Linked DNA regions of Homo sapiens: region 2 is linked to region 1. The links come from fine-mapping of genetic effects on gene expression. A gene starts in region 1. The other region holds a variant in brackets. All regions are shown on one strand. Distances are between the middles of the regions.

The links. PIP is the estimated chance that this variant, and not a neighbour inherited with it, causes the effect.
Region 2: its variant is fine-mapped to the expression of DDT in monocytes (Fairfax 2014, PIP 0.95).

What each region holds. Positions count from the first base shown.
Region 1 is chr22:23,970,230-23,982,284 of GRCh38, forward strand. DDT (D-dopachrome tautomerase) reads right to left here and starts at 4,212. Exons shown (of 3, transcript NM_001084392.3): 1 at 4,078-4,212; 2 at 3,539-3,714; 3 at 1,141-1,394. The coding sequence starts at 4,185. The coding sequence ends at 1,322. It overlaps DDTL (D-dopachrome tautomerase like), which reads left to right. Exons shown (of 3, transcript NM_001084393.2): 3 at 1,057-2,327. The coding sequence ends at 1,177. It also overlaps the pseudogene GSTT2.
Region 2 is chr22:23,913,848-23,930,790 of GRCh38, forward strand. It overlaps the pseudogene KLHL5P1. Among named protein-coding and RNA genes, the nearest start is that of MIF-AS1, 23 kb to the left of the region's middle. The variant G/A (reference allele first, on the strand shown) is at 7,179.

The sequences.
Region 1 (12,055 bases):
TGTGGTGCGTGTGTATGTGTGCGAATGTCAGTGAACTGTGTGTGAGTGAATTGTGTGTTTATGTGTGGGTGTATATGTGTGTGATGTGAGTGAACTGTGTACATGGGTGTATACGTGAATTTTAGTGAATTGTGTGTAAATGTGAGCAGTGTGAATTTGAGTATGTGGGTGGATAAGTGAATTGTGATTTTGTTGGTGTGAATTGTGTGCCTGTGTGTGACGGGGAGTATGTGTGTGTGTGAGTGAACTGTGTGATGACTATGAATGTCAGTGAATGCTGTGATTGTGTGTGTGTGTGTACGTGTGTGGGGATTTGGTCTATATGTGTGAATTTGAGTTGTGTGACTTTGTTGGATGTGAGTGAATTATGTGACTGGGTGTATATGTGTGTGTACATGAGTTAACTGTGTGTAAATGGTATGATTGTATATGTGTGTGAATGTGATGAATCGTGACTAGATGCGGGTGGATGTGTGTATGTGCATGGTGTGTCCATGAGTGTGTAAGTGTGCAGGTGGCACAGTTGCAACAGGAGAGAAGACACAGGAAGCCTTACCTGCCATTCATCCCCCCAGCTGTCCTCCCAGCCTGGGGACCCCTGGGCTGGAAAGGTTATGAAAAGTGGTGCTACTGCCAGGAAGGGGTGATGGGGCAGCTGGGAGGACGGTTTGAGTCTTGCCAAAGGGAGGGAGTCGAAGCTTGCAACCCTGGGGAGGAGGAGGGGCAGACTGGGGACCCTGCTTCTGGAAAACCAGCGACCAACCCCCAAAGGGACACAGGCAACCCCTGCCTCCACTCTACAGTGGGGAAAAGGGGAGAGTGGCGTGGCAGGCTGCCCAGCCAGTCATGGAGGGAGTAGACTTCAGGAGGAGTACAGAGGTCTGGTCCCATTTTGGGGCTGAGGACAGGAGCCTCAGGTCAGCAGTCTGCAGGAAGGCCCCAGCTGGACCAGCTGCTCACACCTTCCCACAGGCCTGCAGATGGGTGTGGAGAGCAGAGCCTCCAGGCTGAGTCTCCCAGCCCCAGATCTGAGCAGTCTAAATCATCCCCCTCCAGGTTCCCTACGGTCTTATCCACCAGCCCTGCTGCCCATGGTGGCCCCAGATGCCCAGGAGAGATAATAGAAGGTAAGAAGTCATGTTTGAATGAGGAAGCTCTCTTCATTTATTTCATATGAGGATGAAGAAGAGGATTATGTGATCACAGGAATGTTGCATGCGGGATAATCCAAAGCTGGTTATCTCCAGGCCCTCACTCTGCCAAGAGATCTCTCTGGAAGAAGCAGCCAGTTCACAGATGCCCTGGATCCCTCCGTGCCCAATCATAAAAAAGTCATGACCGTCCCTATCTTGCCAATCTGCCAGGACTCCAAGGGGAAAAAGCGGATAAGTATCCTTCAGGAGACAGAGAAAAAGATATCATCAGCTCCTTGGCTAATACCACATCTTGCAAGACCCCTGCCAGGTACTCCCACTGTGGGTACTCAGGACAGCCTGCCTCAGTCCACCAGGCATTTTGCAAACCTGCTCATCCCAATAATGATTTTCCCCAACCCCCAGCAGGGCAGTGGGACACTCAGGTGTGGGAGGTAGCCGCACATCATGACCCAGCTAGGACAGACACACAATACAGTAGCCTCGGTGTGTGTGCCGTACACTCTATCATCTCCATCAGTTTGTGTACTGAGGGGTACCCTGCCTCCTAATTGCAGGCTCCCTAAGGGCACAGTACCTCAGCCACCTGTTTTCTCAAAGGCTGAGCACAGGGTGACCCCCCACCCCACCAACCCCGCCACTAATGTCTGGGCCATAAGTGAACATGCCCCTCTCAGAGGTAACAGCAAGTTTCCAGTGAGGAAAACCAGAACTTGGGACAGCCTGGTTGGGGCGGGCGGGAGTATGAACAGCCTGTCTTCTCATCATAAAATTGGCATAATGGAGATTATCTACCTCATGGGGATAGCATGTCTTGTCTGAGCAAAGGGAGAGTGGATAGGGATTGTAAGGATCAAATGGGATCATGAGTGTAAAGTACCTGTAGAGGACCTAGCACATGGTAAGTGTATAACACTTGTTGTTAGAGTAACAGTTTTCCCTGAGTATCCGTGGGAGATTTGTTCTAGAATCCCCAGAGGAAACCAGAATCTACATTTGCTCAAGTCCCTTACATAAAATGGTGTAATATTTGCATGTAACCTACACACATCCTCTCATATACTTTAAATAATCTCTGGGTTACTTATAATACCTAATATAATGTACGTACTATGTAAATAGTTGTATTGTTTAGGGAATAATGACAAGGAATAAAGTCTATACGTATTTTCAGTATAGATGCAATTATCAATTTTTTTTCCTCTAATATTTCAATCCATGGTTGTTTGAATCAACAGATGCGTAACCCAGTGATACAGGGGGCTGACTGTATTATTCCTCTGTAGCTTGAGGGAGGACCCAGCAGGATCAGCCATTCCTCATCGACCTTCATGGACTAACAAAGGCTCCATTTCAGAAGGTCTTTTTTTGTGAGCCAAGGTCTCACTGTCACACAGGATGGAGTGCAATGCGCAATCATAGCTCACTGCAGCCTCAACCTCCTGGGCTGAAACCATCCTCCCACTTCAGCCTGCCAACTAAGTGAGACTACATGTGCACACCACCATGTCCGGTTAATTTTTAAAACTGTTTTGGGGGATGGCATCTCACTATGTTACCCAGACTGGTCTACAACTCCTGGGTCAAATGAACCTCCCGCCTTGGTCTCCCAAAGTGCTGGGATTACAGGCATGAGCCACCGTGCCTGGACAGTGTCCTTTCAAGCTTCTCATGCCCTTACTTCCTCCTAGACATGGATGTGGCTCAAGAATATCTTTTACCCAAGAGGAAACTTTAACTCGGTCACAGAACGCCAGGTTTGGGTTGCAGACGCTTCTTGTGGGGGAGGGAGGTCTTTTCCCCTGTATTCACAGAAGAGGAGGTTGCCAACTGGAGATGGTTCATTTCCAAGTTTGTCTGGGGTCCCCCAGCTATGCAGGACCCAGAAAGCAGATGTCTAGACATCCAGGCCAATGGTCTTTCACTACTCTGTGAGTCTCCCGTGAACTTCACCTGGAACCTGGCTGGGACACAGGTCCAAAATACGTAACTTCAGAACATACCCAGAATTCCTTCTGACCAGCCTGGAAAAGTTCTAGAAAATCACACTTCAGCCACGTGTACCTACCCTGTCAGGTGCCAAGGCAGGTACAGCACACAGACAATCCCACATGACCCTTGCACTGCCCCGGGGGTGTTAAAAGAGAGCCTTCCCGGTTCACAGACTTACACACTGAGGAGCAGAGCCAGAAATTCATTCAATCCTGCTCGCACTTTGAAGATGGTCCTAACAGCAGGAACCTAAGGGGTCAGGGGGCCCCAAAGCTCCAGACCCTGATGTGTCCTTACTGGGCAGGGCAAGAAATGGGTTTTTCCCCCTGAGGCAGGATCAGTGGCTCCAGTCTGCGGCAGTCCCACATGGATCCCCTACTACCCCTACGCACCGGTCCTGGCCCAGGGCTAGCTCCTTGGTGAGAAACTCAAAGAAGTGGGCGCTGTGGCTGCGGTTGTCCTCGGCGGTGCCCACTACGCCGATGGAGGAGATGGACAGCTGCGCGCAGGGCTCGGTGGACCCGCTCAGCGCCATGGCCAGGCCCGGCCGTACCGTCACGTTCACGCGCTGAGGGGGACATGAAAAGTTTTGCCCGAAGTTGGAGCCGGCCGGGCTACCTCTGGGGACGGGACCCGAGCGCGCGAAAGCCGAAACGCGCAGTGTTCGCGGGGCAGGGATCCCGATACGGGCCGCGGTCCCTGAAGGTCACGCCCGGGTCATGACTGGGGAGGGCGACAAGGGAAAGACGTGCGGAGGGGGAGCCGCGGGATCGTGGAGCACGGAAAGTCAGAGCTTGGCGTGAGGAAAGGAGTGGGGAGTGGTCCCTGGGGAAAAGATTCGGGGTCACTGTCGGGGAGGCGGAGCAGGGACAGGGCCGGACCCCTGGCCCACCAACCTCCCCTCGCCCCGTGCTGCCCGGCCCACGCTTACGTCCGCAGGTTTGCCCAGGATGGAGGCAGCGGCGGCGCAGAGTCGTTTCTCCAGCCCCGCGGGCACTCGGTTGGCGGGCAAATTCGTGTCCAGCTCCAGGAACGGCATGGCGGGCAGAGGAACGGAAACAGCTCTGGCGGAAGAAAAGCTGGGGGTACCCAAGGCTCGCGGACCAGGGAGGAGGGGCGAGGCGCCACAGCAACCTGGCTTCTCATTGGCTGGACAGAGACTCGGCGCTCCCCGATTGGCTGCCTAGGGTACCTCCCGCTTCTGCAAACAAAAGTCACGTGTGCCGGCTGATTTCCGGAAGTCCCATCGTCTCCGCCCTACGTGTAGCCCCACCCACTACAGGTCTTTAACCCGGTAGTGGACCCACCCTGTCTCCCCCGACCCTCCTGCCTGGCGCCAGGTGGGTTTCCCTCTCAAGCTTCCGCGCTGTGGTCGCCCGGTTCCTAGCCCTATTAGAGGTCTGAACACCACACCCCCGACACACAAGGACACACACACACCTATAGGGGTCTTCCCCAGGCTCGACCCTAATAACCAATACAACGGGAGCTTAAAGTTTTTTTGAATGATTTGCCACCATTTCGAAGTCAGGCAATTTCATGTTCAGTATGGAAATCTGCGCTTGGGCAGTCAGGAGATGTGGTTACTCGCGGGGGCGCGGGTAGGGCTAGGCTCACGACAATACCTGTCCCTGCCTGGTCCCCATTGACATCTGCCTGTGTAGCCTCTTGTGCCGGTGGTGAGCCACTGTCCACCAGGGGGTGGCAAAATATGTTCTTTAAAACATGGAAAGGCCGGGCACGGTAGCTCACGCCTGTAATCCCAGCACTTTGCGAGGTCCAGGCGGGCGGATCACCTGAGGTCAGGAGTTTGAGACCAGCCTGGCCAACATGACGAAACCCCGTCTCTACTAAAGATACAAAAATTAGCCGGGCGTGGTGGCAGACGTTGTAATCCCAGCTGCTCGGGAGGCTGAGGCAGGAGAATCGCTTGAACCGGGGAGGTGGAGGTTGCAGTGAGCCGAGATCGCGCCATTGCACTCCAGCCTGGGTGACAGAGCGAGACTCCATCTCGAAAAAACATCAGAAAACATGGAACTCTGTTGGCGTGGCTTAAACATGAGTGTGGTCAGTGTGGCAAAATCACTTGAATTGTACATTACAAATATGACTGAAGTTGTGGTCGAGCAATGTGGCTCACACCTGTAATCTCAGCACTTTGGGAGGCTAAGAAGGGAGGATTGCTTGAGCCCAGGAGTTAAAGATCAGGCTAGGCAACATAGCAAGATTCTCTTCTTTATTTTCTACAAAAAAAAAAAAAAAAAGAAGAAATCTGGGTGCTGTGGTGTGTGCCTGTAGTCCTAGCTACCTGGGCGGCTGAGGCAGGAGGATTGCTTGAGCGCAGGAGATCTAGGCTGCAGGGAGCTATGACTGTGCCACTGCACTCCACCCTAGATGACAGAGTGAGACCCAGGCTCCCCCCTCCCCCACAAAAAAGAAAGAAAAAATTTGCAAGTTTATATGTACAATTTCAACTACGTGTATAAAATTCTCTATAAGTGTGCATACTTAAAGGAGCCTCCACTGAAAGGCCGACAGAGTCTCTGTCTGTCATGATCTTGTCCTATTAGCAGTTTGTTTATTAGATGACTCAGATATCAGAAGGTCTGAGACACACGACAGGTAAATATGACAGTCCTAAGGGGAGAGGGCAGGGACAGGTGGCAAGTCTGGGACCAGGTGTGGGGCATGGACAAGCCAGTGGTCCGGGAGTGGGGTGTAGAGAAGACTGTGGTCAAGGTTATGAGGAGGCATGGGAGAGGGCCAGGAAATAACCAGGGACTTCCCTTCCTGCAAGGAGGTTCATGAACCAGCCCTGCACCCCACTTGTGGAACACAACATCGCCCCACAGTGAGGAGAGAGACCGAGGAGACCAAGGCTGATCCTGATTCAGACATCTTTCCACCAGGTCACCCCTCATCGATGATACATGCTCAGTCCGGGGGTATCCCCCGCAAGGAAACACTGGGGCTGAGGAGCCCAGAGAGGTCGCCTGACCTGGACTGGGGCTGGGGAGGTCAGGGAAGTCTCCCTGGAGAAGAGACAGGGTGCCAAATGCCAAAAGACCAGGAAGGGCACCAGGCGAAGATGAGGAGGGAACAGCATGAGCGGAGGCCAAGAGGCCAAGGTGGGAGCCCAGAGAGGGGTTAGGAGTGTGCAGGCAGAAGGGGCCACCTGGAGGAGTGGGAGCAAGGCCTTGAATGCAAAGTTCAATGACTTGTACTTTAGCTTCTGGGCAGTGAGGAACCATACAAAGTTCCACACAGAAGGTCAGGGTCAAGTAAGCGTTTGCCCAAGCTCTTTTCAGAGGTCACATGGAAGCTAGAATGGAATGGGGTAGGAGACAAAAGGAATGCAGGCATGATATCTGGAGGAACTGTGGACCAGAGCCTTTGCAGATATGTCTTCTCTTCAACCAAGGAGACGGACAGCTCCATGTCTTTATTCTACCAACACAGCATCCCCTCAGTGGCTCAGCAAGTGTGGGACACGCACTCACAGCAAGAAAAGCTGCATTAAGGTCTTCAGATTCTCTTTAACAGCAGGTTCTACTGGAGGCAGGTCCTTGGCCTTCAGGACAGCTGGGAGGGCCTCCTGGAAGAAGTCCTCCCGCACTGCAGCCTCCACGTGTTGGGCACCATGCTGCCACCGTGGGTCTGCTTTCAAAGACTCAGCAGCCAGCACTGATGGGCTAGGGGAAGACAGAGTCAGCGGAGGGGCTGGGCATAGCCAAGTGTAAGGCAGCATGACCTGCTTTAGGGGTTCTCTGATTGGATTTTCCCTCCTCCACCATGTGTGTGATGGGCTAGGATGTCCCCCTCCCTGGGGACACTTGGAAGCCTCTTAATATAGCTGCGGTGAGGGGTTTGTAAAGCCCCATTTTATAGATGAGGACACTGAGGCTCAGAAGGAGAAGTGACTCACACAGGGTCCCACAGCCAGAAAAGACAACATGAGCTGGGATGTCAGCTCCCTTCCCGGATACACCACTGCCCAGCGGGCCACCGCACCCCATGGCACTCTCATGCCTCAGCTCCGTGATTGCCACCAAGCCAGCCACAGAGATACGGGGCCCAGTAAGGAAGGCCTGGTCCCGCAGGAACTTGTCCTCGAGCAGCTGCAGGCATCCGTCCAGCTCAGCCAAAGTGGCCGCCAACATCTCGGGTGGCACTGACTCGCCCAGGAACACAGGGATTATTATCTGGTGGGCCGACAGGCAGAGAGAGGGGTCAGGGTCTGCCCAAAGCCCATCCTGGTTCCCACCATCATCCTATCATCACCAGTCCTTGGGATTTCTGCTCACCTCTGCTCACTTCTTTCCACTCATAGCCACCAGTAGCTCTCATCTCCTACTCAAACAGGGACAGCCTCCCCCTTCTCCCTGGGTCCTCACACAAGGCAACCAGTGGGATCCTTCTGTAATCTCAATCTGCCCGTACCCTCTCTTGCATAAAGCCTTCCATGGCTCCCCACTGCCCTCATGAGAAAGGCCTCAACACAAAGCCAGCCTTCTCCAGTGCGGTAGCCATCCCCTCCCCACTTTTCACCTCACCTCCTACTACCCCCCACTTATCAAACGGGAATGTGTGTATGAATCCTCCCTGGAATCTGGTTACAGTTTATGCTCCCAATCAGTAAGGTCAGAGTGGGGCCTGAGCCTCTGCATTTCCAACAAGCTCCCTGGTGATGCTGATACTCCCAGTCCATTGACCACACTTTGGATAGGAAGAGTCTACACTTGCTCTACTCAACTTCTCTCCATTCTGTCCTCAAACACACCACGCTTCCTTCCCCACCAGCTGGAGGGGGCTCTGCTCCCAGGCCCCAGAGGTCAAGGCAGACACAGTTAAGGTGTGGAAACCTCCTTATTGCCCGATGGATCCTCCAGAGAGGCGGTCCCTTACTTTCAGCAGGGCGCGTGTCTACCTGTTTCATGCTGTCTCACACACAGGGTGCCACCCCTGTGCTGGGCACTGGGTAAGTGCTCTGTACATATTAATTAGGAGTACTCATTTCAAAAATATGTGTGCCTTTGATAAATAAAAACAGTATGTGCATGTTGTGTTGGTGTGTGCTTCCTTGATTATTACTGAAGTTAAACATGTTTTCATCCATGTATTGACCATTTCTCTTTGTCCTTCAATGAAACCTCTGCTGATTTCCTTCGCTCATTTTTTTCCTGTGTCTTCGTCTGATGAGTTTCTCTTCTTTTTGTTTGTTCGTTTGTTTGTTTTGAGACAGTCTCGCTCAGTGGCCCGGCTGGAGTGCAGTGGTATGATCTCAGCTCACTGAAACCTCTGCCTCCAAGGTTCAAGTGATTCTCCTGTCTCAGCCTCCCGAGTGTGCCACCGCACCCAGCTAATTTTTGTATTTTTAGTAGAGACGGGGCTTCACCGTGTTGCCCAGGCTGGTCTCAAACTCCTGACCTCAACTGATCCGCCCATCTCTGCCTCCCAAAGTACAGGGATTACAGGCGTGAACCACCACACCCTACCTGTCTGATGGGTTTCTAAGAACATCTTAAAGGACATTACTTCCTTCTGACGTATCTTTTACCGAGATCCTTCCCAGTTTTTTGCTTAAGGTTAATCCATTTTTTCCTCCACAAAGTAACCTTGTATATGTATTGGTTTTTTCTTTGTTGAGTTCTCCCACTGTTCTGAGGCTTAGAAAGTCCTTTCATACCCAGACATCAGAGAAACAGATCCCGTGAGAGTAACTGGGATTGCAGGTGTGGGCCAGCATGCCCTGTTATCACTCCCTTTCTCTGAGTCAGCTTTTCTCTCTCAGTCTCGTCTACTCCTCGAACTCAGGAAATGTCACTACAGGTGGCCCCAGCTCCCGTTTACCTCCCCATAGGGAGCTCCTCTCTCCAGTTCCAGTTTCAAAACTCCCAAGGAAGCATTCTGGTTCACTCGCTTGGGCCACTGGCCAGAGGGATGGGATACTCTGAAAGATTCAGCTAGAGTCCCGGGCCCAGCCCTGGACCATCACTGTGCCCCCTGGTGAGATGCCAGGGCTGGGATTCAGGGAGAAGAAAGGAGGTTCCCGGACAGTCATTCCTGCCTCCCGCGGCTGCGGGCTCCCTGCCCCCATCCTGTGCACGAAGTGGGAGCTCCCGCTGTCTGGCAGCTCCCGCTGTCTGGCAGCAGCTGCTCTGCAGGGGACAGTCTGGACGGCAGAAAGTTCATCCTTAACCCCAGCCTTCCAGTCAAGGTTCCCACCAGTTTGGGACACCTGCAAGTGTCACATCCCACTGGGTGAAACTCTAAGATCCCTTTTAGGGGATCCCATTCGCTCCCTCCCTTCCGCCACCATGCAGCGCCGAGAAACAGAGCTCTGAACGAACCCTCAGATGTCCGTGCGCTGGGGCCTTTCCAGGACGGCGGCGCCCAGTCGTTTCTGGGTCAGGGCGACGCCTGGAACTGGGCAGGGTCCCTGGCACCGGGATCCCGAAAAGCAGACCTGCTTCTCCCTGTCCAGCCGGTTCCCCTTCCCCTTGCAGTCGGCCCCCTGCATCCGCGTCCTCCCTGCCAGTCGAGGGTCCCCAGCTCCAACTCCACCCTCCCAGCTGTGCGTTCATAGCGACCGCCCTCCCTGTAGGGACGCACGGATCTGGTGGTGGAGTCTTGGCCGGCAGGACTGGACAGGAACCGAAGGGGCGAGGCGGGTCCGGGGGTGGTGCGCTCCAATTGGGTGCTGTCCCCAGGGGGTGGGGCCTGATCCCCTATTTCCCGGCGCGCCGGGATCCTGCCACAGCTGCTGCCCACACCGCGCTCAGCGCCTTCACTGCCATCCCCGCTGTCCTTGCCGCCCCCGCCATGGGCCTAGAGCTGTTTCTTGACCTGGTGTCCCAGCCCAGCCGCGCCGTCTACATCTTCGCCAAGAAGAATGGCATCCCCTTAGAGCTGCGCACCGTGGATTTGGTCAAAGGTGGGCCCAGCCCGTTTCCCCGCGTGTCCACAAACCCAGTGCACCCCCAGGCCCCCGCCCTGCTCTGCCCTGAGCGTCTCGCCGCCCGCACAGCCCCCTCACCTCCTCCTGCAGCGTCTGCCACCAGAGAATGCTGTGGACTGAGTGGCCTTGAAGGGATCACAGCCTCTCTGAACCTTAGCTTGCCTTCTGAAAAGGAGGATAATGTTACCTTCTGCTCTGTAGGGATGGAAAGAAAATACTGAATGGAGTTGACAGAGTTCTTGCGTGGAATGCACGCATATAAATTCACAAAGCCCAGAAGACCTCGGGAAGAAGGACATACTGTTGTGAGAATTAAGAGATGGGAAGAGATGAGCCACCCCAGTTTGCCTCCCCTCCCCTGGCCCACCAGAGTCCGGCTAGAAAACTTCTCTTTATCCACCTGCTGCACCTGGCCCCACCCACCAAAACCCCCCAGCTGCCCCGGAATGTGGCAGGGCAGGGAGGCCCAGCCAGGGAGTGAGGCTGATCCAGGCCTCTAGTCCCAGACCTTGCTGTTTCTCAGGGCTGTGGGGCTCCGCTTGGGGAGGAGGAGGGAGGGTGTAGAGGTGCAGCGTTTTTACTCTGAAGACCTTTTCTGACTTCTTCTTCTTCAGGGCAGCACAAGAGCAAGGAGTTCTTGCAGATCAACAGCCTGGGGAAACTGCCGACGCTCAAGGATGGTGATTTCATCTTGACCGAAAGATGCCCTCCTTCCCTCACCCCTCACCGCATCCGGAGCCCATGTGACCTTGGCTCTCCCCACTGGCCCCGGGCCCCAATGGCCCTCCCATACCCCATGGGGCAGCGAGGGAGGGGAAAGGCGAGGGATCTGGCCGGGCGCGGTGGCTCACGCCTGTCATCCCGGCACTTCGGGAGGCCAAGGCGGGCGGATCACGAGGTCAGGAGACCGAGACCATCCTGGCTAACACCGTGAAACACCGTCTCTACTAAAAATGGAAAAAAAAATTAACCGGGCGTGGTGGCGGGCGTCTGTAGTCCCAGCTACTCTGGAGGCTGAGGCAGGAGAATGGTGTGAACCCAGGAGGCGGAGCTTGCAGTGTGCTGAGATCGCGCCACTGCACTCCAGCCTGGGCGACAGAGCTAGACTCCGTCTCAAAAAGGCCGGGCGCGGTGGTTTACGCCTGTAATCCCAGCACTTTGGGAGGCCGAGGTGGGCGGATCACGAGGTCAGGAGATCGAGACCATCCTGGCTAACACGGTGAAACCCTGTCTCTACTAAAAATACAAAACATTAGCAGGGCGTGGTGGCGGCCGCCTGTAGTCCCAGCTACTGGGGAGGCTGAGGCAGGAGAATGGCGTGAACTCAGGAGGCGGAGCTTGCAATGAGCAGAGGTCGCGCCACTGCACTCCAGCCTGGGTGACAGAGGGAGCCCACTCCAGCCTGGGCGACAGAGGGAGACTCCGTCTCAAAAAAAAAGGAAAGAAAGAAAGGAGAGGTATCTGGGGAGAAGGTACAGCTTGGGGTGTGTCCGGGATGAGCAGGGGCTGACAGAACATGTCCCCCCACCTCTCATCTTCAGCCTTTTCTGAGCCGCAGGGCCTCTCCACTCCCAGACTGAAGGGTATTAGAAGAGAAGACAAGGGAACATTTTTCCACTGTTGCGCATTTGTTCAACAAATGCTAGCTGAAAAGAGCCTCTAGTGACTTGTCGCAGACTACCCAATCTACCCAGGCCGGGCCTAGAGGCCAATGCCATGGCCCAAGGGCACAGCTCATGGTGAGGTCCAGCTGCTGGGCAGGAAAAGGACAAGAGGTCAGGTGGCTGCAGAGGTGATGGCTGGGGGCCTGTCAGACGGGGGCCAAAGACATTCCTCCCCTCGTGATCCCTGACCCAAGCGCGTGGACATGCAAGGGACTCCACGGAGCATCCACTGTGTGCCAGCCCCATGCAGGGTTCCAGGGGTCCAGGGAGCCTATTCTGAGCTGCAC
Region 2 (16,943 bases), 54 kb before region 1:
CGGTGTAGTTTTCCCGCCCCTTCCCTGCAGCTCCCGAGACCACCCGGACACAACGGAGCCATCCAGCGCCCTCAGAGGCCCTGGGCACACGGGCAGATGGTCACCGCCTCCTAAGGGAGCAGCGCGCGCCCGTTGCTCGCTGCCCGTTGGTTGTTGCTGGTAGCTCCGGAGGGCGGGGTTGGCGAGGAAAGTGAGTCCGTATGTCCCCAGCATGCTCCGCGCGGGGGCGGGGCTCTAAGGGGGCAGGCGAAGGCGGAACTGGCGTGGTCAAACCAACCTATCAGCCTCCAGCATGCTCCGTGTGGGAGCGGGGTTCCCGGGGGCGGGGCTTGGTTTGTGTGCCCTTCCGGCGTTTCGCCCCTGCGTTCTCTGAGATGCTCCCACGCAGATGTATGGGCCTAATTCGCTAATATCCACTCTATATCCTGTTCCATCCTCTTGTAATGGGCGTTTGGAGTGTTGCCAATTTTTTGCTGTTATAATGATTGTAATAGCATATTAAAAAACTTGAACATAGTTTGATTGTAATAACATTAAATATAGCATCTTAAACATACAGTTTGAGCGTGCCAACCTGATGGGTGTGGAATGTAATATTCATTATAACTTTGATTTTCATTTCCCTACTTTGAGTAAGTTTGAACTTCTCTTTATGTAATTATTGACTACTCTGTTTTCATGTTCTGAGAATTGCCTGTTTGTATTTTATGCCCATTTTTCTATTGGGTTGTGGTTTTTATTGATTGGTAGTTCTTTATAATTTTATGGATACCAGTCTTTTACTAGTTCAGCGCATTAATTGCAAATATTTGCTCCCACTCTGTGGCTTGCTTCCTTTCCACCCCTAATTCCTAGGGTGTCTTTTTGAAGCACAAATCTAAAATTGTAACACAGGCGACTATCAATCTTTTCCTCTATGATTTGAGCATTTTGTGTTTTGCTTAAAAACTCAGCCCTTGTCCCAAGGTCATAGAGATATTCTCCCGTATTTTCTACTGATCCATCCCCCATATTTAGGTCTTTGGTCCATCTGTATTAATGTTTATGTGTAATATGAGATAGGGATCCTACTTTATCTGTATTGTGTTAACCAAAAAATGACTGAGACAGGTGTCTCAATCAATAAAGGTTAATTTAGCCAAAGTTTGAGGACATGCCTGGGAAAAACACAAGTCTCAGTTCCTAATATTAACCGCTTGCATTTAGTAGAAATGACCTTCAAGGTTCTCTGTAGCAGAGATGTGGTTGAAAAAGGAAAGGAAGACATAGGGTTTGTAGATGGCCATAGCTTCACGGAAGAGCGAAAGAAGGGCAGGATATGTGGTTCTCTCCCTATGGAAAACCATAGAGGCCAAAAGCTTCCCTGCCCAAACTTCAGCCCCAAAGACTCAGATAATAGCCTTAACCAGAGCCCTGGCATGAAGAAAGGACAAGGCCTTGACTGTTTATACAGACTTGAGATATGTGCTCACTGTGATCCATGCCCATGGTGCAATCGGGTACGAAAGGGGACTTCTGAATGCCAATAACAAATAAATCAAATATGAAACATAAATATTGGCACTACTGCACAGTGGAAATGACTAGACAGATTGTGGGGGTCATCTAATGGGGGACTTTGAACTAATGAAGGGGAGCAACCTGGCACACACAGGGAGGGAAAGTCCCTGCTTCCTTCAGTACCTCTTTATGAATATAAACCAATAAACCAAGACACTCCCCTGGGGAATTACAGGAAGCCATGCGAGAGGGAGAGCATCAGAGTTCCCTCTCAGAGGGATGGGCCCTAAATAAGAGAGGCAGGATTTGGGTGCCCAGAAATCTGAGTTGGGCTATTATAAAGCCTGCCCATGATCTCTCAATCTATGGCAAGAAGACTATGCACACCTAGCTCCTCAGGATAATAAGGACCCCAAAAGCAAAGAAAATGATGGATAAAGTGGCTGACCAATGTGTCTATTGTCAGAGAAACAATGCTCAAAACAGACCTCCCATATCTCCCTTGGCCAAGGTGGTACAATTCAGGGGAACCATGTGAGGGGAGGACTAGCAAATTGACTCCAGTGTTATGCCTATGTCTTCTAGAGGATTTAAATATCTCCTGGTGCTTTTCTGATGCCTTTGCTGGTTGGATAGAGGCTTTTCCATGCTGGACTGAAAAGGCAGAAGCCATGAAGTCTTTACTAAAGGAATTTATCCCTCCATTCAGTCTCCCTAAGTCAGTCCAGAGTGCTAATGGACCCGCATTCATTTCTAACATAGTAGTAAAAACTTCCCAGGCCTTGGTCATACAGTGGAAGTGGCATGTAGCCTGGAGACCAAACTCCTTGGGAAAGACTGAAAGGTCCCATAGAACTCTCAAAGGTATCCTAGCCAAGTTATGCCAGGAGGCCCAAGATAATTGGTTAAAGCTGTTACCCATAGCCTTGGTCCAAGTATGGGTAGCACTCAGAGAAAGAATGAGACTTAGCTCCTTTGAAATGCTATATGGGGCTGGGCACAGTGGCTCATGCCTGTAATCCCAGCACTTTGGGTGGCTGAGGCAGGTGGATCACTTGAGGTCAGGAGTTTGAGACCAGCCTGGCCACATGGTGAAACACCATGTCTACTAAAAATACAAAAAATTAGCCGGGTGTGGCAGCATGTGCCTGTAATCCCAGCTACTCAGCAGGCTAAAGCATGAGAATCGCTTGAACCTGGGAGGCAGGGGTTGCAGTGAGCCGAGATCACGCCACTGCACTCCAGCCTGGGCGACAGAGCAAGACTCTGTCTCAAAAAAAAAAAAGAGAAAGAAATATTATATGGGGCCGGGTATGGTGACTCACACCTGTATTCCCAGCACTTTGAGAGGCCCACTGGTGAAGAGGATCACTTAAGCCCAGGAGATCGAGACCAGCCTGGGCAACAGAACAAGACTCTGTCTCAAAAAAGGAAAAAAGAAAGAAAGGAAAGGGAAGGGAAGGGGAGGGGAGGGAAGGCGAGGGGAGGGAAGGTAAGATTATATGGGGCCGGGCGTGGTGACTCACACCTGTATTCCCAGCACTTTGAGAGGCCCACCCGTGAAGAGGATCACTTAAGCCCAGGAGTTCGAGACCAGCCTGAGCAACATAGTGAGACTTCCTCCCTATTTAAAAAATAATAATAAAAACCAGGCGTGGTGGTGCGCACCTGTAATCTCAGCTACTTGAGAGGCTGAAGGAGGAACACTGCTTGAATTCAGGGAGGTCAAGGCTGCAGTGAGCTGTGATGACGCCACTGCACTCCAGCCTGGACAACAGACCCAGTCTCCAAAAAAAAAAAGAAATGTTAATATGTAAGGCCTTATCCAGGCGTGGCCAGCCCCTTCTCTTGCCCAGATGAGGAGATAGAAAGGGTGATGAAGCATATTATGTTATTCATCTGGAGTCATTTGTTGCTATTCTCAACCACCTCAGCAACCCCAGCCTCCTGGTCCCCTCTGGGGTAAAACTTCATCTGTACAACCCAGGAGACTGGGTATACCTCAGGACCCAGAAGGCTGAGTACTCCCAGGACCAGCTCAGCCCGCTATGGATGGGGCCCAACCTAACACTTTTAACCACTCATTCTTCTCTTAAACTCCAAGAAGTAACCCCTTGGATCCATCACTCAAGAGTGAAGAGGCCAGGCATGGTGGCTCACGCCTGTAATCCCAGCACTTTGGGAGGCAGATGGGGGAGGATCACTTGAGGCCAGGAATTTAAGACCAGCCTGGGCAACATGGTGAGACCTTGTCTCTACAAAAAGTAAAAGAATTAGCCAGGCACCGCTAATTGGTGGTGCACGGAGGCTGGGGCGGGAAGATCCCATGAGCTTAGGCGTTTGAGGCTGCAGTGAGCTATGATTGAACCCCTGCACTCCAGCCTGAGTGACATAGAGAGACTCTGTCTCAAAAAAAAAAAAAAAAAGAGTGAAAGCCCAGGAGCCCCCAGAAGATGCCTCCCCAGCATACATTTGTGAACCCATCTCAGACCTCAAATTGGTTTTTAGAAGAAAAGGCTCAGATAAGTCAAGTGTGCCCCTTGCCATTCTCTTGCCATAGTAGGCATCTTCTTTATCCCTGCAGGAACCCTCATGCTGTTGCCCTTTTACACTGTGGAGATGCTTAGGTGGTGGCAAATCCCTTCATAAAACACCTAAAAATGGCCCCTATGCTTTTTGGCCTTTTTTTTTTTTTTTTTTTTTTTGAGATTGAGTCTCACTCTTGTCGCCCAGGCTGGAGTGCAGTGGCGCAATCTCGGCTCACTACAACCTCTGCCTCCCAGGTTCAAGTGATTCTCCTGCCTCAGTCTCCCAAGTAGCTGGGTCTACAGATGTGCGCCACCATGCCCAGCTAATTTTTTTATTTTTAGTAGAGACGGGGTTTCACCGTGCTGGCCAGGCTGGTCTCGAACTCCTGACCTTTTGATCCGCCCACCTCAGCCTCCCAAAGTGCTAGGATTACAGGCGTGAGCCATCGCACCCAGCCTGCTTTTTGGCCCTTTTAGTTGCCTTGGCCAGTGATCTCTGGGAGGCCAATATAATAATCAAGGTCTCCTGTATCACAGCTGGTGGGAACAATCTGTTCAAATGTTGGATGTGCCATAGGCTTCCCCACACTTGGATGGGGTGACCTGTTGCTAATCCTTTGAGAGGAGTCATTAACATCACAGGGTTGTGTGGACCTCACCTGCTAAGGGCAATGTCACTAAGAGAATAGGCCAAGTTTATTTAAATTGCTCAGGAAAAGGAGAAAAGAGGCAAACATGCTACAAAAGAGTATTTGCAGTGGCTCACCCTTGTTTCGGCAATGTAATATGCCTAGGACAGTGTACTGTGGGCTTCTGGGGCCTATCAGGGTAACAGCCCATAGTGCAACCAGCCATCATAAGAGACCAAAAAAAAAAAAAAAAAAGGACGGGGGCTATTGGACAAACCATGGAAGCTGCCGGACTTGCTGTGGGGTTGGCTGCCCTTTCTTGCGGGGGGGTTGCCTGTTATGAAGTCACCCTAAGAAATTTAATCTGAATACCCAAGGCTCTGGCAGCTAAAACTGGAGAGGCTCTCTAAAATATATGTATTTCTCTAAATTCACTAGCCAATGTAGTGTCAGAAAAGCGATTGGCCTTAGACTATTTACTAGCAGAACGGGAGGGCTGTGTGTGGCACCAATACCTCCTGTTGCACTTGGGTAAATGCCTCCAGAGGAAATAGAGGCTAATGTAAAAGAAATATTCAACACTTTGGGAGGCCAAGGTGGGTGGATCACTTGAGGTCAGGAGTTCAAGACCAGCCTGGCCAACATAGTGAAACCTGGTCTCTACTAAAAATACAAAAAAATTAGCTGGGCATGGTGGTGCACGCCTGTAGTCCCAGCTACTCAGGAGGCTGAGACAGGAGATCGCTTGAACCCAAGAGACAGAGGTTGCAGTGAGCCAAGATCGTGCCACTATACTCTAGCCTGGGTGACAGAGCGAGACTCTGTCTCAAAAAAAAAAAAAAAAAAAAGAGAGAAAGGGGCCGGGTGCGGTGGCTCAAGCCTGTAAGCCCAGCACTTTGGGAGGCTGAGGCGGGTGGATCACGAGGTCAGGAGATCGAGACCATCCTGGCTAACACAGTGAAACTCCGTCTCTACTAAAAACACAAAAAGTTAGCCGGGCGTGGTGGCGGGCGCCTGTGGTCCCAGCTACTAGGGAGGCTGAGGCAGGAGAATGGTGTGAACCCGGGAGGCGGAGCTTGCAGTGAGCCGAGATCCCGCCACTGCACTCCAGCCTGGGCGACAGAGCGTGACTCATCTCAAAAAAAAGAAAGAAAGAAAAAAAAGAAAGGAAATATTTAAACAAGTAGAACAGCTGCATTCCTTCAACCAGAAGGGTAGCTCAACCAACGAGCTATCTTGGAATGCAGTGAAGTCTGCTGTACCTCACTTCACCTCGTTTCTTCCTCTGCTGTGGCCTCTAGTGGCCTCTGTTCTGTTACTTTTCGGTCCCTGTATTTTAAATTGATAGTACAGTTTGTGTCCTCATTTTGTGTAACAGCAGCAATACCAGCTCCTTTGAGCAACTTCAGATGACTAAAAAACTTATTTGAACTCAGGAGCCTGAGAATTTCACTCCTCTAACTTTAGTAGCCTCACTGTTCCCTGTCAGCATGAAGTAGACAGAGAAGAATGACCTTCATCCCTAACCGCTCAAGAATGAGGGGTGGGGTGTTTCAAGGGGGATTTGTAACTGTGTCCAACCGAATCTGGCTCAGCTTTTCTGTGTGTGTGTGTGTGTGTGTGTGCGCGTGTGTGTGATGGGGTCTTGCTCTGTCAACCAGGCTGGAGTACAATGGTGTGATCACAGCTCACTGCAGCCTTGACCTTCCAGGCTGAAGTGATCCTCCCACCTTAACCTCCCAAGTAGCTGGGACTACATGTGTGTGTCACCATGACTAGCTAATTTTTAAAATTTTTTTGTAGAAATAGGCTTTTGCCATGTTGCCCAGGCTGGTCTTGAACTCCTGGGCTCAAGCAATCCTCCCATCTCAGCCTCCCAAAGTGCTGGGATTATAGGTGTGAGCCACGGTGCCCACTGTGGCTCAACTTTTATGTAACAAAGTCAAAGTTGTGAGTTTTTTTTCAGTTGCTGTGGATCCTCAGGTTGAAGGTCACTTACCCTGACTGTGCCCAGATGAACCAGGTATGCAGCTCACAACTTTGTTACATAAAAGTTGAACCAGATTGATCTGGTATGGTTATACAACTACACTGAGAGGGAGACAGTTAACATGGACTCACACATCTCAGAGACATTGTGAGTCTCCCTCAATATTTTCCTAAGTTCTTAAAGCTGACTTAGATTCTGTAGCCTTGACCCAAGGTTCCACTCTTGCCAATATGTTGATCTTTTACTTTGAAAATATACTAAGCAGGCTAGGTGTGGTGGCTCACGCCTGTAATCCCAGCACTTTGGGAGGCCGAGGCGGGTGGATCACCTGAGGTCAGGAGATCGAGACCATCCTGGCTAACACGGTGAAACCCCATCTCTACTAAAAATACAAAAAATTAGCTGGGTGTGGTGGCGGGCGCTTATAGTCCCAGCTACTCGGGAGGCTGAGGCAGGAGAATGGCGTGAACCCGGGAAGCGGAGCTTGCAGTGAGCTGAGATCGCACCACTGCATTCCAGCCTGGATAGAGC[G/A]AGACTCTGTCTCAAAAAAAAAAAAAAAAAAAAGAAAGAAAAAGAAAAAGAAAATATACTAAGCAGGCCAGGCGTAGTGGCTCATGCCTGTAATCCCAGCACTTTGGGAGGCCGAGGCGGGCAGATCACCTGAGGTCAGGAGTTCGAGACCAGCCTGACCAACATGGCAAAACCCCATCTCTACTAAAAATACAAAAAGTAGCTGGGTATGGTGGCACATCCCTGTAGTCCCAGCTACTCAGGAGGCTGAGGCAGGAGAATCGCTTGAACCTGAAAGGCAGAGGTTGCACTGAGCCAAGATCATGCCACTGCACTCCAGCCTGGGTGATAGAGTGTGACTCTGTCTCAAAAAAAAAAAAAAGAAAGAAAGAAAAATAAAAGAAAATATACTAAGCAGGATGCTCTTACAGACTTCCTCCTTCTCCTAAAGGTGCTGGCTGAAGAAGGCCATGAAGCCTTCTAATCTAAACTCAGTGGGTACAAACAACTATTACCTACTTGGGACATGAGCTATCTCAGGGCATTCAGAAGCTCACCCCCAAATGTCTTAAGTCAATTTTGTTTATCTCTCTCCCCAAAACAAAAAAAAAAACAACTTTATACGGCTGGGCGCAGTGGTTTCATGCCTGTAGTTCCAGCACTTTGGAAGGCCAAGGTGGGAGGATTGCTTGAGCCCTGGAGGTTGAGGCTGCAATGAGCCATGATTGCACCACTGCATTCCAGCCTGGTGACAAAGCAAGACCTTGTCTCAAAAACAAACAAATAAGCCAGATGCAGTGGCTCATGCCTGTAATCCCAACACTTTGGGAGGCCGAGGCAGCGGATCACAAGGTCAAGAGATCCAGACCATCCTGGCCAACATGGTGAAACCCTCTCTCTACTAAAAATACAAAAAATTAGCTGGGCGTGGTGGCGGGCACCTGTAGTCTCAGCTACTCGGGCGGCTGAGGAAGGAGGATCGTTTGAACCCAGGAAGCGGAGTTTGCAGTGAGCTGAGATTGCACCACTGCACTCCAGCCTGGCGACAGAACGAGACTCCGTCTCAAAAAACAAACAAACAAAAACTACAAAAATTTCCAGTGACAGCTGGCTATTGTCACCAATGGATTTCTAATTTTGCTGCCCTTGCCAAACCTCTGTATGCCCTCCTTGAAGACACCATCCCAGCACCCATTTTCTGGCCCTGAGAGGCACTAACCTCCTTTGTAGCCTTAAAATTAGCATTTCCCATACCTCTGATGTTGGCTTACTGAATTTTGACTAATCTTTTCACTTCTATTACCATGAAAATAATGGAATTGCTGGAGGTATTCTATGCAACCTTTTGCCTCTCAGATATATCCTATATTTCTCATGCCAATTGAATCCTGTGGCAGCAGGCCTGCCCTCATGCCTGCATGTGATGGCTGCAGCTGACTCTGTAACTGACAAAGCCAGCACTCATGTTAGGCTTATCCATTTTCTGTTATGTTCCCCATGCTGTCCATCTTCCAAGTTCATAAGACATAGTACCTCTCCACATGGCAATAGACCTATGAACAGGTCCTATTAACCAAACCCTCCATTATCTTACATCATTGTGCCACTGTAAATCTGGCTACTCGGCTAGGCATGGTGGCTCATACCTGTAATCTCAGCACTTTGGGAGGCTGAGGCGGGTGGATCACTTGAGCCCAGGAGTTCGAGACCAGCCTGGGCAACATGGCAAAACCCTGTCTCTACACAAAATACAAAAATTAGCTGGGCATGGCGACACATGCCTGTGGTCCCAGCTACTTAGGAGGCAGAGGTGGGAGGATTGCTTGAGCCCAGAGGCAGAGGTTGCAGTGAGCTGAGATTGCATCATTGTACTCCAGTCTGGGCAACAGAGTGAGACTGTCTCAAAACAAAAACAAAAACAAAAACAATCTGGCTACTCTATTAGCCCTCCCTGATGATGGAGAACCCTACTCCATTCCACATGATTGCCTTCCAATGATAGAAATGGTCTCAAGGTCATGAGACCTGTTGTGCACCCTTTAGACAACACAGACTCACTCCTATTTTGTGATGGCTCCCATAAACGAGGTTTCTGGGGGAACACAATAACTGCTATGTCATAGTTTCCCCACAGGAAACACTTGAGGTCCTGTTTGCCCACAGTAGAGTAAACCCCAGGCTGGGGAATTTATAGCTCTTATTAGAGCTTGCGCATTGGCAGAAGGGAAAACTGCCACTATTTATACCAACTCCAGTTGGAGTCTGCTGACCATTGGTGCAATCTGGAAATCCTGAGAATTCTTTTTTTGGAGAGATGGGGGTCTCAGTATGTTGCCCAGGCTGGTCTTGAACTTCTGGCCTAGAGCAATCCTCCTGCCTCAGCCTCCCAATGTACTGGGATTACAGGCATGAGCCACCATTCATGACCAATCCTGAGAATTCTTAAACGCTACTGGTACTCCTGTTACCAATGGGCATATAATTCTTGCCCTACTACAGGCTATTCACCTCCCAAGAAAAATTGCTGTTGCTCATTGTTTAGCCCATACTAAGGAGACTGATGCTATATCTTTTTTTTCTTTTTTTTTGAGATGGAGTCTCGCTCTGTTGCCCAGGCTGGAGTGCAGTGGCACGATCTTGGCTCACTGCAACCTCCACCTCCTGGGTTCAAGCGATTCTCCTGCCTCAGCCTCCCGAGTAGCTGGGATTACAGGCACATGCCACCACACTCGGCTAATTTTTGTATTTTTAGTAGAGACGGGTTTCACCATGTTTGCCAGGATGATCTTGATTTCCTGATCCTGTGATCTGCCCACCTCAGCCTCCCAAAATGCTGAGATTACAGGCGTGAGCCACCACACCTGGCCCTGATGCTGTATCTCTAGAGAATGATAGGGCCAACAAGGCAGCGAAATACACAGCCAGAAATGGATCCCCCCACCATCCTTTTTCCATGCAATTTATCTGTGTCTTTATCCCTGACTGATATTATTGATTATTGTTAGTATTACCAGGCAAATGCCCCACAATCTGAAAAAGACAAATGAATTCAAAAGGACAGCAAATAATTACCAGACAGATGATACATTGGACCAAATAGACTTCCCGTGGCTTCCTTTCTTTTGACCTTTTGGCTTGCACTTATCAAATGGGACATATGGAGATGGAGGATAGCAAAGGAACTAAAATATAATTAGTTCTACCCTGGCATCCACAAAACTTCTGGCCACACTGTTTCCCAGTGCACAACTTATAAATCTCATGGAATCTCTGGAGGAAACCAACATTCCTCGGGGAGTCCTCCAAGGCCCACACTGCCCCTTGCAGGACTCCAGATGGATTTTGTTGATTTACTTCTGGCTTTAGGGCATTCCCACTGTTTGGTTACTGTCTGAATGTTTAGTGGATGGATTGAATGCCACCGGACTGGATGTGCTGATACCACAACACTGGTGAAGAAATTAATAACTCGGCTGGCCAGGGAGGCTCACACCTGTAATCCCAGCACTTTGGAAGGCAGAGGTGGGCAGATCATGAGGTCAGGATTTTGAAACTAGCCTGGCCAACATAGTGAAACTGTGTCTCTACTAAAAATACAAAAAAATTAGCTGGGCGTGGTGGTGGGCTCCTGTAATCCCAGCTACTTGAGGCTGAGGCAAGGAGAATTGCTTGAACGTGGGAGGTGGAGGTTGCAAAGAGCCGAGATCGCACCACTGCACTCCAGCCTGGGCAACAGTGAGAGACCATGTTGGAAAAAAAAAAAGAAATTAATAACTGAGATTATTTCTCATTTTGGCTTTCTGTTACAGATTAAGTCAGACCAAGGAACTCATTTTACAGCAGAAATAAACAATTCGATTGCAAAAAAAAAAAACTCCTTTGGGGTACTCGTTAAAATTTCACACCCCATACCACCCCCAATCCTCAGCTCAAGTGAAATGTAAAAATTTAGACATAAAAAGGACATTAGGCTGTGTAAGATACAATGAATTTCTCTGAGTTTCTCTTCAAAGATTTAGCCTGCTAACTTCCTTGTCCTTTGTTCTCAAACTTAACTTTCCTGTTCCTCCTTGCCCCTAGTTACTGTAAAACAGCTTACCCCCTTCCCACCAGCTCTAATCAATAACTCACATCCTTTCCCTTGGTTATCTGTACGCGTTGTTCCCCCAAAACTGCATGTCTTACATGCTTCACCACTGTACCTCACGTACACTTTCCCTTCCATATTTAGAACAATATTTGCAAGTAGCTAATTGGATCAGCTCAGATTGTGCAGTCCAACCCCAGCCCATGGGGGAGTGACACAGAGGTAAGGACTATGCATCAGAGATAAAAACCCCCTGCTCCCCTTTGTTTGGTGTGCTCTTGCGATCTTGATTGACGGGAGTGGCACCCTTCTGCAGAAGTAAATTGCCTTGCTGTGAAAACTTTTGCCTGAGTGCTGGTTTCACTTTGTGGCACCAAGCATTTATTCCTGGAGCATTTTTATATTCAACAGGCTGGGTGCGGGGCTCACACCTGTAATCCCAGCACTGTGGGAGGCCCAGGTGGGCAGATCACTTGAGGTCAGGAATTCAAGACCAGCCTGGCCAACATGGTGAAACCCTGTCTCTACTAAAAATACAAAAATTAGTTGGGGGTGGTGGCACACCCCTGTAATCCCAGCTACTTGGGAGGCTGAGGCAGGAGAATCACTTGAACCTGGGAGGCAGAGGTTGCAGTGAGCCAGGATTGTGCCACTGCACTCCAGCCTGGGCGACAGTGTGAGACTCTATCTCAAAAAAAAGAAAAAGAAAAAAAGACGTTAGGAAAAATCTGTCAGGAAACTGAATTGAAGGGAGGAAAAACATTACCTCTTGTTGCCTTTTACCCCTTATGAAGTTTAGAATGCTCCAAATGGGAGGCGTGGATTAACTTCTTTTGAAATAGTGCTTGGTTTCCCTTTGCCTATTGGCATCTCTAAACCTTTCATTCCTGCATTGAGTGATCCCTGGATTATGGGGACTTCTTAAGTGAACAATGTGATGCTATGACAGCTACATAAAGGAACTAACTAGTAATCTTGGAGCATATAAATCATCAACAGGTAAAAAGGGCATAGCTTCTGCCAACTAACAAGCCTTGCCATCCTTTTTGACCAGGAGATTAGGTGTAAATCAAGGCTTTTAGAAGAAAGCATGCACTGTCACCAATGTTTTGGTCAACGATGGACCGAATATACAATGGTGTCCCCATCAGATTATAATGCCGGTGAGCCACCGCACCTGTCATCCTAGCACTTTGGTAGGCAGAGGCGGGTAGATCATTGAGCCCAGGAGTTTGAGACCAGTCTGGGCAACATGGTGAAATCCTGTCTCTACAAAAAATACAAAATAAACCAGTCATGGTGATGCGCACCTGTAGTCCCAGCTACTTAGAAGGCTGAGGTGGGAGACTCACCTGAGCCCAGGAAAGTCGAGACTGCGGTGAGCCATGATCATGCTACTGCACTCCAGCCAGGGCAACAGAGTGAGATCCTGTCTCAAAAAAAAAAAAAAAAAAAAGAAAGAAAGAAAAAAAAGATTATAATACCATATTTTTACTGTAGCTTTTCTATGTTTAGATATGTTTACATACAAAAATACTTATCATTGTGTGGGCTGGGTGGGCAGCCGATTGCGCAGTGCGGGGACTGATAGGCGAGCCAGTCTGGACCCCCATCCACTCACCCACCCCTCTGGGGCTACCTGAGGACTCTGACCACCCACCCCCCACCGCCTGGTGCCACCTGATGGAGCAAGATTGTCTAGCTTGGGGCCACCAACGCCGTAGATGAGGCTGCCAGGAAGGGGTTGGGGGCACACGAGCATCCCTCTCTGCCCTCGCCTCCCCCACTCCTCCACCCTGGCCTGCTGTGACTCCCTCCGGAGCCCGACGCGGACTTCCAGTAGTAGTCAGACGTTATCATCCTGTCATATTATGGAGCCATGTTCATCATGAATTTTTCCAAGCCCTGAATTATGCCGAACAAACATTTAAAAAAATGGAAAACTGTTTGAGACATAAACAGTTGTGCGATGTAATTTTAGTTGCTGGTGATGGCAGAATTCCAGCTCACAGATTGGTGCTCTCCTCTGGCTCAGACTATTTTGCTGCCATGTTTACTAATGATGTCAGAGAAGCAAGACAAGAAGACATAAAAATGGAAGGTGTAGAACCAAATTCATCGTGGTCCTTGATCCAATATGCTTATACAACCCGCCTTGAATTAAAAGAAGATAATACTGAGTGCCTGCTATCTACAGCTTGCCTTCTTCAGCTTTCACAGGCTGTAGAAGCATGTTGTAAATTTTTGTTTGTTTGTTTGTTTTGAGACAGAGTTTCGCTCTGCCGCCCAGTGTAGATCTCAGCTCACTGCAACCTCCGCCTCCCAGGTTCAAGCAATTCTCCTACTTCAGCCTCACGAGTAGCTGGGATTATAGGCGCCTGCCACCACGACCAGGTACTTTTTTGTATTTTTAGTAGAGACGGGGTTTCACCATGTTAGCCAGGCTGGTCTTGAACTCCTGACCTCAGGTGATCCGCCTGCCCTGGCCTCCCAAAGTGCTGGGATTACAGACGTGAGCCAGGGCACCAGGCCACATGTCATAAGTTTTTAATGAAACAGCTTCACCCATCCAGCTGTCTTGGAATTTGTTCTTTTGCTGATGCCTAAGGTTGTACAGATTTGCATAAAGTGGCTCACAATTATACTATTGAGCATTTCATGAAAGTAATCAGAAACCAGGAATTTGTATTATTACCAGCCAGCAAAATTGCAAAGTTCTTGACTAGTGATGACATGAACATTCCTGATGAGACAATATTGACTCCACTTCTTACTTGGGTCTGTCATGATTTGGAACAGAGATGGAAAGATCTAAGTAAACTTTTGGCTAATATTAGGCTACCTCTTCTTTCACCACAGTTCCTGGCAGACATGGAAAATAATGTACTTTTTTGGGATAATATAGAATGTCAGAAACTCATTATGGAAGCAATGAAGTACCATGTATTACCAGAGAGATGACCCACGTTACAAAGTCCTCAGGCAAAATCTAGGAAATCAACTGTTGGTACATTATTTGCAGTTGGGAGAATGGATTCAACAAAAGGAGCAACAAGCATTGAAAAGTATGACCTCTGTACAAATACATGAACTCCAGTAGCAAATATGAATGAGAGGAGGCTACAGTTTGGTGTCGCAGTGCTAGATGACAAACCGTATGTGGTTGGAGGAAGAGATGGACTGAAGACTTTGAATACTGTAGAGTGCTACAACCCCAAAACAAAAACAGGGAGTGTGGTGCCACCTATGTCCACACATAGACATGGCCTTGGTGTGGCTGTACTGGAAGGTCCCATGTATGCCGTAGGAGGGCATGAGGGCTGGGGCCATCTGAACACAGCGGAAATTTGGGACCCTCAGGCTCGCCAGTGGAATTTTGTTGCCACTGTGTCTACTCCTAGGAGCACAGTTGGTGTGGCAGTGCTAAGTGGAAAACTTAATGCAGTTGGTGGTGGTGATGCAAGTTCTTGTCTCAAATCAGTAGAATGTTTTGATCCTCATACTAGTGAGTGGACTGTTGGTAGAAGAGCTGAGGCAGGACTGGCTTGTCTGTCATAATGTAAAAGAGTCTTGAAAGATGTCCGGGGTCCACGGCCTAAAACCCCTCATGGCCTTTGGTACACCAAGCTCTGTGCCATAGGGTGGAAGGCTGCCCTGCCGCAACACAAATCTAAGCCCAGGGCATAAAACCCCGTGTGGCTTGGATGGAACCCAGGGCTCAGGGCATAAAACTCCTCATAGCCTCTGGAATGTGCACAGACTTGTTGGTTCCTTGCTTCTTACTCGTAAACATGTCCTCCATTATCTCAAGTAGCAGAGCATATTCTACATGCATCAAAGGAAGTGCTAAGCTGTCACAGCTACGCTTAATGCACCACTAGCTTTCTATCCCCACGTTCTCATGCCCTCACCTGTTTACCCTCACATCCTCACCACCTGCTTCTTTGTTTGATCACCAATAAATAGTGTGGGCTCCCAGAGCTCGGGGCCTTTGCAGCCTTCAATCTAGTGCCGGCCCCCCGGACCCACTTTATGCACTTTTAACTTATCTTTTCACATTCCTCTGACCCCGCCAGACTTTGTAGCCCCCACGGCCTGGTGTTAGGCCTGATCACCCCAACATGGACACTGTGTGCACGGATGTCAAAAAGGAGAGGTGGCATAGGAGTAACGACCCGGAGCGGACTGCTGTATGCTATAGGGGAACATGATGCTCTCACATCCAACTTGACTTCCAGACTCTCAGATTGTGTGGAGACATCTGATCCCAAAACAGACATGTGGACTACAGTAGAATCAATGAGCATCAGCAGAGATGCAGTGGAGGTCTGTTTACTTGTTGATAAGTTTTATGCTGTTGGGAGGTATGATGGACAGGCATACCTGAATACAGTGGAGGCTCATGATCCCAGACAAAGAGTGGACCCGGGTTGCTCCACTGTGCCTAGGAAGAGCTGGAGCTTGTGCTGTGACTGTAAAATTATAATTTAGTGCTCTGTTTTCTACATGAAGACACTCTCTTCCTTTATTAATTTAGTACAATTATTCTACCATCAATGGATGCATTTTTAGTAAACATGCATTGCCACAATCCTGGGCACAAAGTACCTGATCTCAAAGCAAAGATAGTAAAACAACGGAGGAAGGAGTGGATGGACCAGGATTAATTGCTTTCAATTCTTAGTAAATGAAAACCTGCAGCTGGTGGATTGTGAACAAACATTCCTGATGTAACATATTAGGACAGATGCACTGCTCTGGAACATAGCCCAGTGCTAGCTGGGGATCTCATTTATTCAGTCAAGCACATCTTACTCATGCGGGTGGCAAGCCACCCAGGTGCCGAGGCAAGAAACCGAGGGCACGAGCTGTTCCAGTATAATAAAATATATAAAATAAGAATAGTTATACTAGATATAGATCTTAGATATGATTATATATATATCATTAATCATTAGTTTGCAGCAATTATTCTTTATTCCAATATTATAATAATTCTTGCTCTACAATCATAACCTAGGAAAAACCAGGCCATACAGAGATAGGAGCTGAGGGAACATAGTGAGAAGTGACCAGAAGACGAGTGCGAGCTTTCTGTTATGCCCGGACAGGGCCACCAGAGGGCTCCTTTGTCCAGCAGTAGCGCCAGCATCTGGGAAGATGCCCGTTGCCAAGCAGACCCTGGTCTAGCGGTAGCGTCAGTGTCAAGGAAAAACACCTGCTACTTAGCAGACCGGGAAAGGGAGTCTCCCTTTCCCCAGGGGATTTTAGAGAAGACTCTACTCCTCCACCTCTTGTGGAGGGCCTGACATCAGTCAGGCCCGCCTGCAGTTATCCGGAGGCCTAACTGTCTCCCTGTGATGCTGTGCTTCAGTGGTCATGCTCCTAGTCCACCTTCATGTTCCATCCTGTACACCTGGCTCTGCCTTTTGGATAGCAGTAGCAAATTAGTGAAAGTACTAAAAGTCTCTGATAGCAGAAATAATGGTGTAAGCTCTCTCTCTCTTTCTCCTCTCTCTCTCTCTGCCTCGGCTGCCAGGGAGGGAAGGACCCCCTGTCCAGTGGACACATGACCCACGTGACCTTACCTATTATTGGAGATGGCTCACACTCCTTACCCTACCCCTTTGTCTTGTATCCAATAAATATCAACACAGCCTGGCATTTGGGGCCACTACCGGTTTCTGCATCTTGGTGGT